Homo sapiens: one gene and its partners. The protein of the gene in region 3 interacts with the protein of the main gene of each other region in a biochemical or structural test. Each region holds a gene or a part of one and is shown on either strand. Other genes may lie near its edges.

Region 1 (3,500 bases), on a different chromosome or scaffold from region 3:
TCACTTGAGCCCAGGAGTTCAAGGCCAGCCGGGGCAACACGGCGAAGCTCCATCTCTACAAAAAATACAAAACTTAGCCAGGCATGGTGGTGCACACCTGTGGTCTCCAGCTACTCGAGAGGCTGAGGTGGGAGGATCACCTGAGCCCAAGGAGGTCAAGGCTGCCGTGAGCCATAATTGCACCACTGCACTCCAACCTGGGCAACAAAGTGAGACCCTGTCTCAAAAAAAGAGAAAAAAGATACATTATAGCCAAATGCACTGTGTGACCCTGGACCCATAAAAGATACTAGCAGGACAAAATTTGAAGATGGTCTGTAGGTTAGATAATAGTGTTATATCAATGTTAGTTTCCTGATTTTGATCACTGTATCAAATAATTGTGACATTGGTTATGTAAGAGAATGCCCTTATTTTTAGAAAATATACACATTTTAGAATGTGTAGGCTTAGATTATTCATTTTTTAAAATGAAATGATATTTAGAGACAAAGGGGTATAAATGTTTGTAACCAACAAACATTTTACTTTTTAAAATTTACATTTTTAATTTTAAACAGAGAGAATAAACGAATGATAAAGTTAAGTGTGCTAAAAAGTTAACAGTCAGGAAAGCTGGGTAAAGAAAATTCCACAGACTGCTTTTGCAAATTTGAGGGTTTTTTTTTTTTTTTCACTACTGTAGTTGGAAGTTAACAAAAAAGTCTACCTCCAAGGAACTGGCAGAGTGTGAGAACTGTTTATAAAAACTTGAGAATTTTCTCAATCTTGCTTCGTTTGCACTTTCCCCTGGATTCCCACATCTGATTTTATATTCTTCCTTCCTTGTGCTGTTTCTTCTCTTCCTTCTCCACAGCTCTTCACCCATCATTCCTTTTTTTCACTGATCCTTCTTTAGCAAATTCTTTCACTCCCAAAGGTCCTGAACACTTCATAATTTTAGAAATGACTGTATTTTAGAATAACCAATTATCCTGAATGAGTTTTGTTCTTTTGCTTCATTTATAAATCAGCTGGGTTTAATGTTATGTCTGCCATTTAAACTTTCTACTAAATTAAGTACTTCTTACTTTACCACAATCAGCCAGCAAGCCAGTTCCCAGATTGATTCAAACCACACAACGCAGAAAACTATATATTGCAGGATTTCATTTTTTAAAATAAATAATTGAAGCCTACACATTTTTAAAACCCAGAGGTCACTGGGCTCAGTGGCTCACACTTGTAATCCCAGCACTTTGGAAACCCAAAGTGGGAGGGTTGTTTGAGCCCAGGAGTTCAAGACTAGCCTGGGCAACACAGTGAGACCTTGTCTCTACAAAATAAAGATAAAAAAATTAGCCGGGCATGGAGCCACAAATTTGTAGTCCTAACTACTCAGAGAGGCTGAGGCAGAAGCACTGCTTGAGCCTAGGAATTCGAGACTAGCCTGGGCAACATGGCGAAACTGTGACACTACAAAAAATGCGAAAATTAGCTAGGTGTGGTGGCGCATGCCTATAGTCCCAGCTACTTGGGAGGCTGAGGTGGGAGGATCGCTTAAGCCTGGGAGATTGAGGCTGCAGTGAGCCATGATTACACCACTGCACTCCAGCCTGGGCAACAGAGAGAGACCTCTCTCTCAAAAAAAAAAAAAAAAAAAGACATCCCTGAACATGCTCCAACTTGTAGCAACTATGTTACATTCTCTTTGTATTTACTAGGAGATCCTTCTCTTTGGGCAACTTTTTGCCTAACTATTCTTGAGCCAAATTAAGTATAATGGAAGACAGATATAAAATAAAGTAACCGTCTAAATATTTCATATCAGTTAATACAAATTCAGATTTAAAGCACTGAGGTTCAAATTTTGACCTTACATTTCTATACATACACTGTTTCTGAAGATGTCTATGTACAATAAAACAATCCCGTATGTCTGTGCGGACTGAAAACCTACTAAACTAATTAGCAAGTACCTTCCTTTGGCCAACCAAACTTTGATAACGTGGCTGCTGTTCTGCTAGGCTAGAAATCTTTCAAATACTGGTGGCAGGTCCCATTCTGAAAAGAGCTCAGCATTTGGAGAAGCTGAGTTCTCTGGAAGGCAACGAGCAGAGTAATGCAGGCACTCGCCACTGATGTTTAGACACCACCCCATCTGCAGCATGGCAATGGGGTTGAGGGGTTGGGGAGAGAAGCACAGCCCCCAAAAGAGCAGCTCTCCTCATTTCCTTCATCTCAGCATATTCCTAATTAACTCAGCTTTGTGCCTGTTATGAATAGCTTCAGATGGAAAGGCTCCAATTCCACATTCCTCTTCATTATGCACAGCTTATTAAAATTGAAATTTCACTGTTTCCAACTCGACCAAATTAGTGGTTCAAACTGCCGTGCGCTATTAAGAGTGAGGCATTCGTTTTAAAGGATGGAATCAGGATAAACATGGCCTGGATCAAGGCTGGAACAGGCTAGAAACTTCAAGGCTTTGAGTTTTACGCTTGCCACATGAGCCTGAGAACATCAGAACCTTTCTGCATGGCAGTTCTTCAATCTGGCAGGCCAGGCTGATAGGATGGTGCCCTTCCCTAAGCTCCTCTGCAGTGAAAAATCAGAGCTGAGAAGTGGAGAATAATTGACAGTTTCCAGAGGCCCTTTTAGTTGGGAGTTTGTTTCCCATTCCGAAATCAAACAGTTGTCTATCAGAGCCTGTCCTCCTGCTCAAAAGGAGAGCGTATCCAAGAGGCCTAGCAAGAGAATGAGAATCCGCATGCCAGCCCTCAGGCTGGTACCTGCTCTTCTTCAATCCTGCGCTGTAGTGTTTCAATATAATGCTGGACCGCCATATAGATAAATCGGTACTGTGCTTCTGTCTGGACCATCCCTGACCTCTGAGACCGCACCATCTGGATGGTTTTGGGAACGTCAATATCGCAGTCAACACCTACGAAGGAAACATCATGAAGAATAAAGAGAAACTGCAGAGCCAGGATGAAGTTGTTTAATGCACAACTTTTAGTGGACTCAGAGACAATGCTAATTTAGTCTTTGCTGTTTTAACTGAGCATGTTGCAATGGCTACAGTGTTGAACTTCTGACCAATACCAATGATCCCAGAAGACTACATAAATAACGAAGTGGCAGAAGTCAGGATTCCCTCACTTGCCAACAAATCACCCCATACTGTAAACAAGGTCAGGTGGCTGGATAGAGACCACCACTGTGTATGCAACAAAAGGCCATGGCAGTGGGTTCTGCAGCTCCTAGACTTCATTTTATGCCAAAAGCTCAAATAGTGTCACTTCTGTTCTCAGGCAGACACACTGAAGTCTTCAGCCCAGATTTTTGTGAAAGAATTTTCCCATTCAACCTCTCTTCCCCAGACTGTTTTCGTGAGCACTTTCCTTCCATAAACTAAAAACAGAAACTGTCGCTTCTTGCCCACCAGATGACCCACCTTTCTCTCTGATGATGTCAATAAGAATATCAATCACAATGAACGTCCCTGTCCGGCCAATTCC
Region 2 (3,500 bases), about 130 Mb from region 3:
TCCAATAAAGCACAAAAGATCTCTTCCCCAATTCCCCAATTACCAAGAAGCTTCACTGTCACTTGCCATCATTAAGTTAACGAGATAAAACTGCAGTTCTCCAAAATATCTTAAGCTAAAAATGTGAGGAAAAATAAACAAACACACTTTGGGAGGCCGAGGCGGGCGGATCGGATCACACGAGATCAGGAGATCCAGACTATCCTGGCTAACACAGTGAAACCCCGTCTCTACTAAAAATACAAAAAAATTAGCCGGGCGTGGTGGCGGGCGCCTGTAGTCCCAGCTACTAGGGAGGCTGAGGCGGGAGAATGGCGTGAACCTGGGAGGCGGAGCTTGCAGTGAGCCGAGATCGCATGACTGCACTCCAGCCTGGGCGACAGAGGGAGACTCCCTCTCAAACAAACAAACAAACAAAACCAAGAGCAGAAAGGAAACAGATCAAGCTACTGAACTTGAACATCTATCACATTTTCTGTTAACCTCAGTTTCATCATATGAACTATGAAGATATGTATGCACATCTCCACTGAGTTATTAAAATAGTTGATAAAATCTTTAAATAATACATAATTAAAAAAACCTGCTAAACCAATAAAACTAAATTAATGTCAATTGCATTTTTTCTCCTCTTTTAATCCCTCTCTTTTAGAGACACTGAAAAAATTAAATTGTGAAGTAATGAAGTGAAATTTAATATCTGATTAAAAAGTAAACTGCAAATTTCATAGACTTTCTTCCTGTGGATTTTTAATAGTAATTTTATTTAAAATGGTGAGAAAAGTTAAGTTGCCTTAACGATACTATAATCCTATCAACTCTCTTTGCCTTAGGTAACATGGGAGAGGAGACAGGTATATGTTTGAGATGAAGGAGAAAACAAAAGCGGAGCACGCTGTTTAGAGTAGAGCTGGCTCCAAAGAGCCCTTTATGCAGTGTCAGGGCATGGTCCAAAGCTGCATTCAGTCACCAATCGGCAGCTTTGGAGAAAAGAAAACACACAGCCTGATAGCTAGCCTCCCCTTCTCAGCCATTCAATCCCGTTTAAGTGTTCTATGTGGACAGCTGTTAAATTTGGGTAACACTATTTAGTTGCCCAATAAGAAGGACCCATGCTAGTTGCTGTAATGAGTTGCTACTAACTCATTACATCCTTTTTACCCTAATTATGCAAATACAGTGGAAATACAGTTTAAAAAAACTGTAAAAATATAAAAGAGCCATAAATGCATAAAATGTCTACCATATACTCTGACATCGACAATACTCTCTAGTAGAGAGAGTGTAGACATTGAGGAATGCAGAAAGGGATAGTGAATAGAAGATTCAGAGAAGAGAAAAAAAAAATGAACAATGTGTTCCCATAGAAGCTACACAAAGTGTTTGTAAAAGAGGTGTCCAATGAGGCAGACAGTACCTCTGCTGTTTTATCTTCCTGGAATTTCCATTTTTCCTTCCACATAGACTTAACTTTTAAATTTATCATAACCTCAAATATATAGTATATATTTATTTTCCTTGGCCTTTGAATGTTAATTTGAAAACTACATGCATATTTAACTTTGCTTTAGTAGTCTGATTATTAAGACCTAAAGACACTAGCAAGAAAAGGCCATTAAAATATAAAATAACATAATGAAGAAAAATAGCCTTTCACTTTTCAAGTTTTGAAGTGTATGTCTGGTTCCTTCCCCACAGCACAGAGTGACAGAATTCTATGAGGTTCACTTCATTCCTATTTTAACCTATGGATAAAAGAATAGAGAAAGGGCTATCCCAGGCATTGAGGCTGCTCTGAGATACTCCACTGATGTTACTTTCTACAAACAATTTAGATACTTTAAATTGTCCAGAAGATATTTGTTCTCTTAAATAGCATCTCATTTGAACATTTCATGAGTGAACTAGTCATAGCACATTTCTTTCTTCTTCTTTTTTTTTTTAATTGCATTACTTCTGCAGAAGTCTAATTCTAAACTTAGAACTATGCTCCCAAGATTACACCAAACTGGCCCCAGCGGCTACATGGGCCCATGTTCATTTTTATTCACCCAACATTTTGTCTGTATTATTAGCTGAAACAAGTTTTACAAGGGGTTTGCTTGTTTGTTGGTTTGTTTAGGAGGCTGAATGATGAGTTCAAAGTGAGTCAAATCACTTACATAATACTTGCAAGACAGAAATGAGTGTTGTCATCCAGAGGTTTTCTGTCTCTAGGCTTTGGAGCACAAAGATTTAAACTAAGACCAAGAAGGACAAGCAAATATTTAGAATGTTCTGGATTTTAGTCATTTCTGGGGCTGGAAAGCTTTGAATGAGTGGAAGCAATTCTAAGATCAGGGAGTATACTATGCCTATGCAGTCTCTAAGCAGAGAGCTTTGTGACTCACTGGCTCAATAAAAATTTCTAGTACTTTCAAATTCTTGATTTCTCTTTTCTGATGAAATTAAATTCTACACAAATTACCTGTCTCTTTTATATAACAGAGGGTAAAATTATGAAATGATCTTTGAGGGGGATTCCAGGTAATTACTCCTTGATGTGCAGCTTCACTTCTACAAAAAATAATCTGAGGCTCTCCTGGACCTGTTAAAAGAATAAGAATGTTATGTAATATGAAAAATAAGACATGGATAAAGCATTCTTCATATTATAAGCATGCATTATTGATAACCATATTTTGACAAATGATGAATTCAAAATAAAATTTAAAGAAATGCATCTGGGCTCATTTAATTTGTTTTAGAGTAAATTCCTTTAACAAAGTAAATGTCACACCAGATTGGCACTGTGAAACCTAAGCATTCCACTGACTTGAAGATATCTAAGAACCCCCTCTTCCTTTCATATACATTATTCATATATATTCTTGCCCAGATACTACCTAAAAATCCTGGAATTTGTAGATTTTGCTGTGCTAAAAATCTGGCATTCATAGCACCAATAAATTTAGCAGTCATTGAGTAGCACTTGTCATTGCTTCCAGTAACTAGTCATTTGAAACTGAGAAAAACTGATAAATGTTTAAATAAAATGTCTGAAGTAAAATTTACATTAAAATGTACCCATTTGAGATACAGTTTAATGCATTTTTAACAAATGTATACATCCACATAACCAACACCACAATCAAGATAAAGAAAATTTCTGTGATCCCAAAATGTCCTTCTGTGGTACTTCCCAGTCAACTCAGCTCCTTTGACCAGACTCACGTACCTTCTGATCAACTTTCTGTTAACTACAGATTAAGTTTGTCTTTTTACCCATTGCATGTAAATAAAATGAAACAAACAGTAAGTACTTTTTCACTCCTAACATATTGCACTCAATGTAATGTTCTGAAGATTCATTCACTTAGTTGCATGTGTCATAGTTAGAATTTTAAAAAATTATCAGTAGTTATTGTAAAGATACACCACATTTTACCTAGGATTCAACAGTGAATACACATTTGGGCTGTTTCCAGGTTTTGGCTACTATGAATGCATCTGCTTTGTCA
Region 3 (3,500 bases):
CCTACATAGCCTCACAAATTAAAGGCTTGAGTTATGAGTACTCAGATTATTGAGAACCTCAGAATATTCAAATTAAACGTTTGGATTACAAATATTACATGTTTTCATAACTACATTGGAACAAAAACATAAAATAATGCCTTATTTAGAAAAACACTACTAAAATTCATTCATAATGACCCATGTATTTCATCTAATAGTGTGCAGAAAATATTCCTATTGCTAAAAAAAGTCTGCTATAAATAATTTGAAATGAATTCAAAACTGTAAAACTTCCTAAGGCTGATTTTCTCAATACCACTGTAAACAGGAACAATTTTTTTTTCAAAATCTAATGTGATCAGAAAATGGCAAAATATAACATTAAATCTGCATCAATCTGCATACAAATCTGCTAACACAAATGAAGACACAACGCAGCTTGACATACCCACAGAATCAGGAAGGACACATGTTGGTGGAGAGTCAAGTGAACCTAGAGAGTGATTGATCCTAATCCACATTGTGTAGCCAGATAATAGGAAGATTGGCTGGAAAATGCATTCATAAAAACCATCACTCTGCAAATAGCAATCTTTGGGCTCAGATATGGGATGAATAGATGGAATATCAGAACAGTAAAGGCTGCTCCTTTAAAAGATACAAAAATAGTCAATTAGTATACATTAATAAAAGCAACAAGAAGATATCTGAGAATTCTGATTTGTTGTTTAAAACAGCAGTCCCCAACCTTTTTGGCACCAGGGACCGGTTTCATGGAAGACAATTTTTCCACTAATGGGGGATGGGAGATGGTTCAGGATTTCGGGATGAAACTGTTCCACTTCAGATCACCAGGCATTAGATTCTCATGAGGAGCGCATGCCCAGTTCACAATAGGGTTCTGCTCCTCTAAGAATCTAATGCTGCGCTGATCTGACAGGAGGTGGAGCGCAGGTGGTAATGCTGCTCTCTCACCTCCCGCTTTGTGGCCGGGTTCCTAAGAGGCCACAGACAGGTACCGGTCCGTGGCCCAGGGACTGGGGACCCCAAGTTTAAAAGACAGGCAGAAGGCCCGGTGCGGTGGCTCATGCCTGTAATCCCAGCACTTTGGGAGGCTGAGGCGGGCTGATCACTTGAGCCCAGGAGTTCCAGACCAGCCTGGGCAACATGGGGAAACCCTGTCTCTACAAATGCACATCTGTAGTCCTGGCTACTAGGGAGGCTGAGGCAGGAGAATCGCTTGAACTGGGGAGGCGGAGGTTGCAGTGAACGGAGATGGTACCACTGCACTGCAGCCTGGGCGACAGAGGGAGACTGTCTCAAAAACAAAATAAAATTAAATTAAATTAAATTAAAATAAATAAAATACAGACAATTTCACTCCATCTAAAAAAAGACATTCTTATTAGAAAGGCATTTTTTAATTTTTCCCAATTCTATATCTTTCCACAGAAACTGACAGTAACTCTTATTAAATATTTCATTAGACACTAAGCAGGGATGCAAATGAAATAAATACTCTAAAAAGAAGAAAATGATCCAGTTAGAGACAGAACCTACAATAATTTGAAAATTAAACAAACATTATGTATTAGTGATAGAATATTTAAAATATAGATGAAAGTAGTCATGGAGCATTCCTGAGATGGCAAGGAAGGCAAATTCCTCACACTTTGAAGAAAGAATTAAATTTCACCACAAATGAGTGGTGAATATAATTTTCTAGTTCAAATTAATATAAGTTAATATAATACCAATTTCAGATATGTATGTGAATTATATAACCATGTATATTCCTCATTTTCTCAGAAAAGAAAATTTAAAAAAAATTTTATAAGTGAGTCCTAGCCAACACTCCACCTCAGAACCCATAAAGCAGGGGTGTCCAATCTTTTGGCTTCCCTAGGCCACACTGGAAGAAGAACTGTCTTGGGCCACACATAAAATATACTAACGATAGCTGATGAATCAAAAAAAAAAAAAAAAACCAGTTGCAAAAAAAATCTCCTAATGTTTTCAGACAGTTTATAAATTTGTGTTGGGCTGCATTCAAAGCTATCCTAGTCCACATGGGGGCCCCAGGCCATGGGTTGGACAAACTTGACATAAAGTCTTTTTCCTCTTCTTTGAAATAACCTCTTGGGCCAATGTTTGCTCTGAATACTATATTTAAATAGCTGAAGTAGCAATTACTCTTTCCAAAGAGATGGGAGTGAGGAAGTTAGAAGAAGCTAAAAAATCTATATTCTTCTGTCATTTTCTATTTTCTATACCACTTCTTTTTCTTGTCTTCTCAAAATTACAATCATGAATGTGTGTGTGTGTGTGTGTGTGAATAAATGGTGGTGCGTGGGCAAAAATGAAAATGAGGAGTGAGGGGTCATCTGGGGGTAGAAAATAAGAACAAAGTAGAAGCACAGTACTAGTACACTTGAAATCGAAAAGTTGGCATCATTATCATGACAGCAAAAACCATATATTGAATATTTACAAGGAGAAATTATACCATGTGATTATAATTAGATGAAATATGTCATTAACTCTCGCAGAAACACTGTAAGTCCTATTATTCTCTCTGTTTTACAGACAAGGAAATTGAGGCTTAGGGAAGTTAAGAAACTCACCCAAGTAAATGTAGTTTCATAGTTATTCTGTAAATGTTAATAAGAGAAACAAGGCATGGGGCTTAACATAATAGTTTTCCATAAACACCTTTTCTAATGTGAAAATGCCATGAAAAGAATGTAAAGACAGATTATAAAAGTAAAATTTCATATCATGAACAATTCTACTGATTTTAAAATACTCATATTAGGTAGGATGAAGGCAGCTATTTGAGAAATGTACGAATTGCCACATTTTTTTCCTAACGCTACATAAGAAGAGACTGGCAGCATTAGGAATAGACTTCAGATCACAGTATTTGAGAGAAGGGATTTATTTTTCTAGTTGAAAATTTATATTTTAAGAATAAATGAGCATGTTATACAAATTGAAAGTCTCCACTACAAATAAAAATATAAATTGGGACACAGTGTTTAACAGCAGTATATATTTACTTGACTACTACTATGGGATATTTTTAAAAATAAAAATCTATTATATAATCAAGGGTTGTATCATTTTAGATAAAATGATTTTAGAAAGAAAGGGACCACTATAAGACGATGCCTTGAATTCTTTTTAAAACATAGAAGAGTAAAAATAAACAAGCACAAATTACTTCTCATTAGAACACATTACCCTTTATTAACCATAAGTATTTATTTCCTAAGTAATCTCACTCAGTTCTAAAAACCATTCATATTATCTCTTATAATCTGTTTTTACCTCTTTTTTCCAAAACATTAATCTTTAGCCAAATGATACGAAACTTTTATAATCTTTCACATTCTCCTCTAGTCAACTAAGTCAAATTAAAATATATATAAACTACATTTTCTTGCATTTCATTCAAGAGTTAAAATACAAATTTTTCAGAATTGATTGATTTTCAGAAAAGATAATTTGAAGTAAAA

Evidence for each region.
Region 1: the proteins of LEPR (region 3) and PTPN11 form a complex in vitro, tested with the Homo sapiens proteins (one study listed by BioGRID).
Region 2: of the proteins of LEPR (region 3) and PTPRC, one has a biochemical effect on the other in vitro, tested with the Homo sapiens proteins (one large-scale study listed by IntAct).

What each region holds. Positions count from the first base shown.
Region 1 is NC_000012.12:112,488,447-112,491,946, reverse strand, and holds part of PTPN11 (tyrosine-protein phosphatase non-receptor type 11), read right to left. Parts: coding exon 3,437-3,500; intron 2,924-3,436; coding exon 2,772-2,923; intron 2,764-2,771; exon of another isoform or gene 1,959-2,763; intron 930-1,958; exon of another isoform or gene 523-929; intron 1-522. UniProt on the Homo sapiens protein: Acts downstream of various receptor and cytoplasmic protein tyrosine kinases to participate in the signal transduction from the cell surface to the nucleus. Positively regulates MAPK signal transduction pathway. Dephosphorylates GAB1, ARHGAP35 and EGFR.
Region 2 is NC_000001.11:198,712,040-198,715,539, reverse strand, and holds part of PTPRC (receptor-type tyrosine-protein phosphatase C isoform 1 precursor), read right to left. Parts: intron 2,588-3,500; coding exon 2,468-2,587; intron 1-2,467. UniProt on the Homo sapiens protein: Protein tyrosine-protein phosphatase required for T-cell activation through the antigen receptor. Acts as a positive regulator of T-cell coactivation upon binding to DPP4.
Region 3 is NC_000001.11:65,602,168-65,605,667, reverse strand, and holds part of LEPR (leptin receptor isoform 1 precursor), read right to left. Parts: intron 631-3,500; coding exon 431-630; intron 1-430. UniProt on the Homo sapiens protein: Receptor for hormone LEP/leptin. On ligand binding, mediates LEP central and peripheral effects through the activation of different signaling pathways such as JAK2/STAT3 and MAPK cascade/FOS.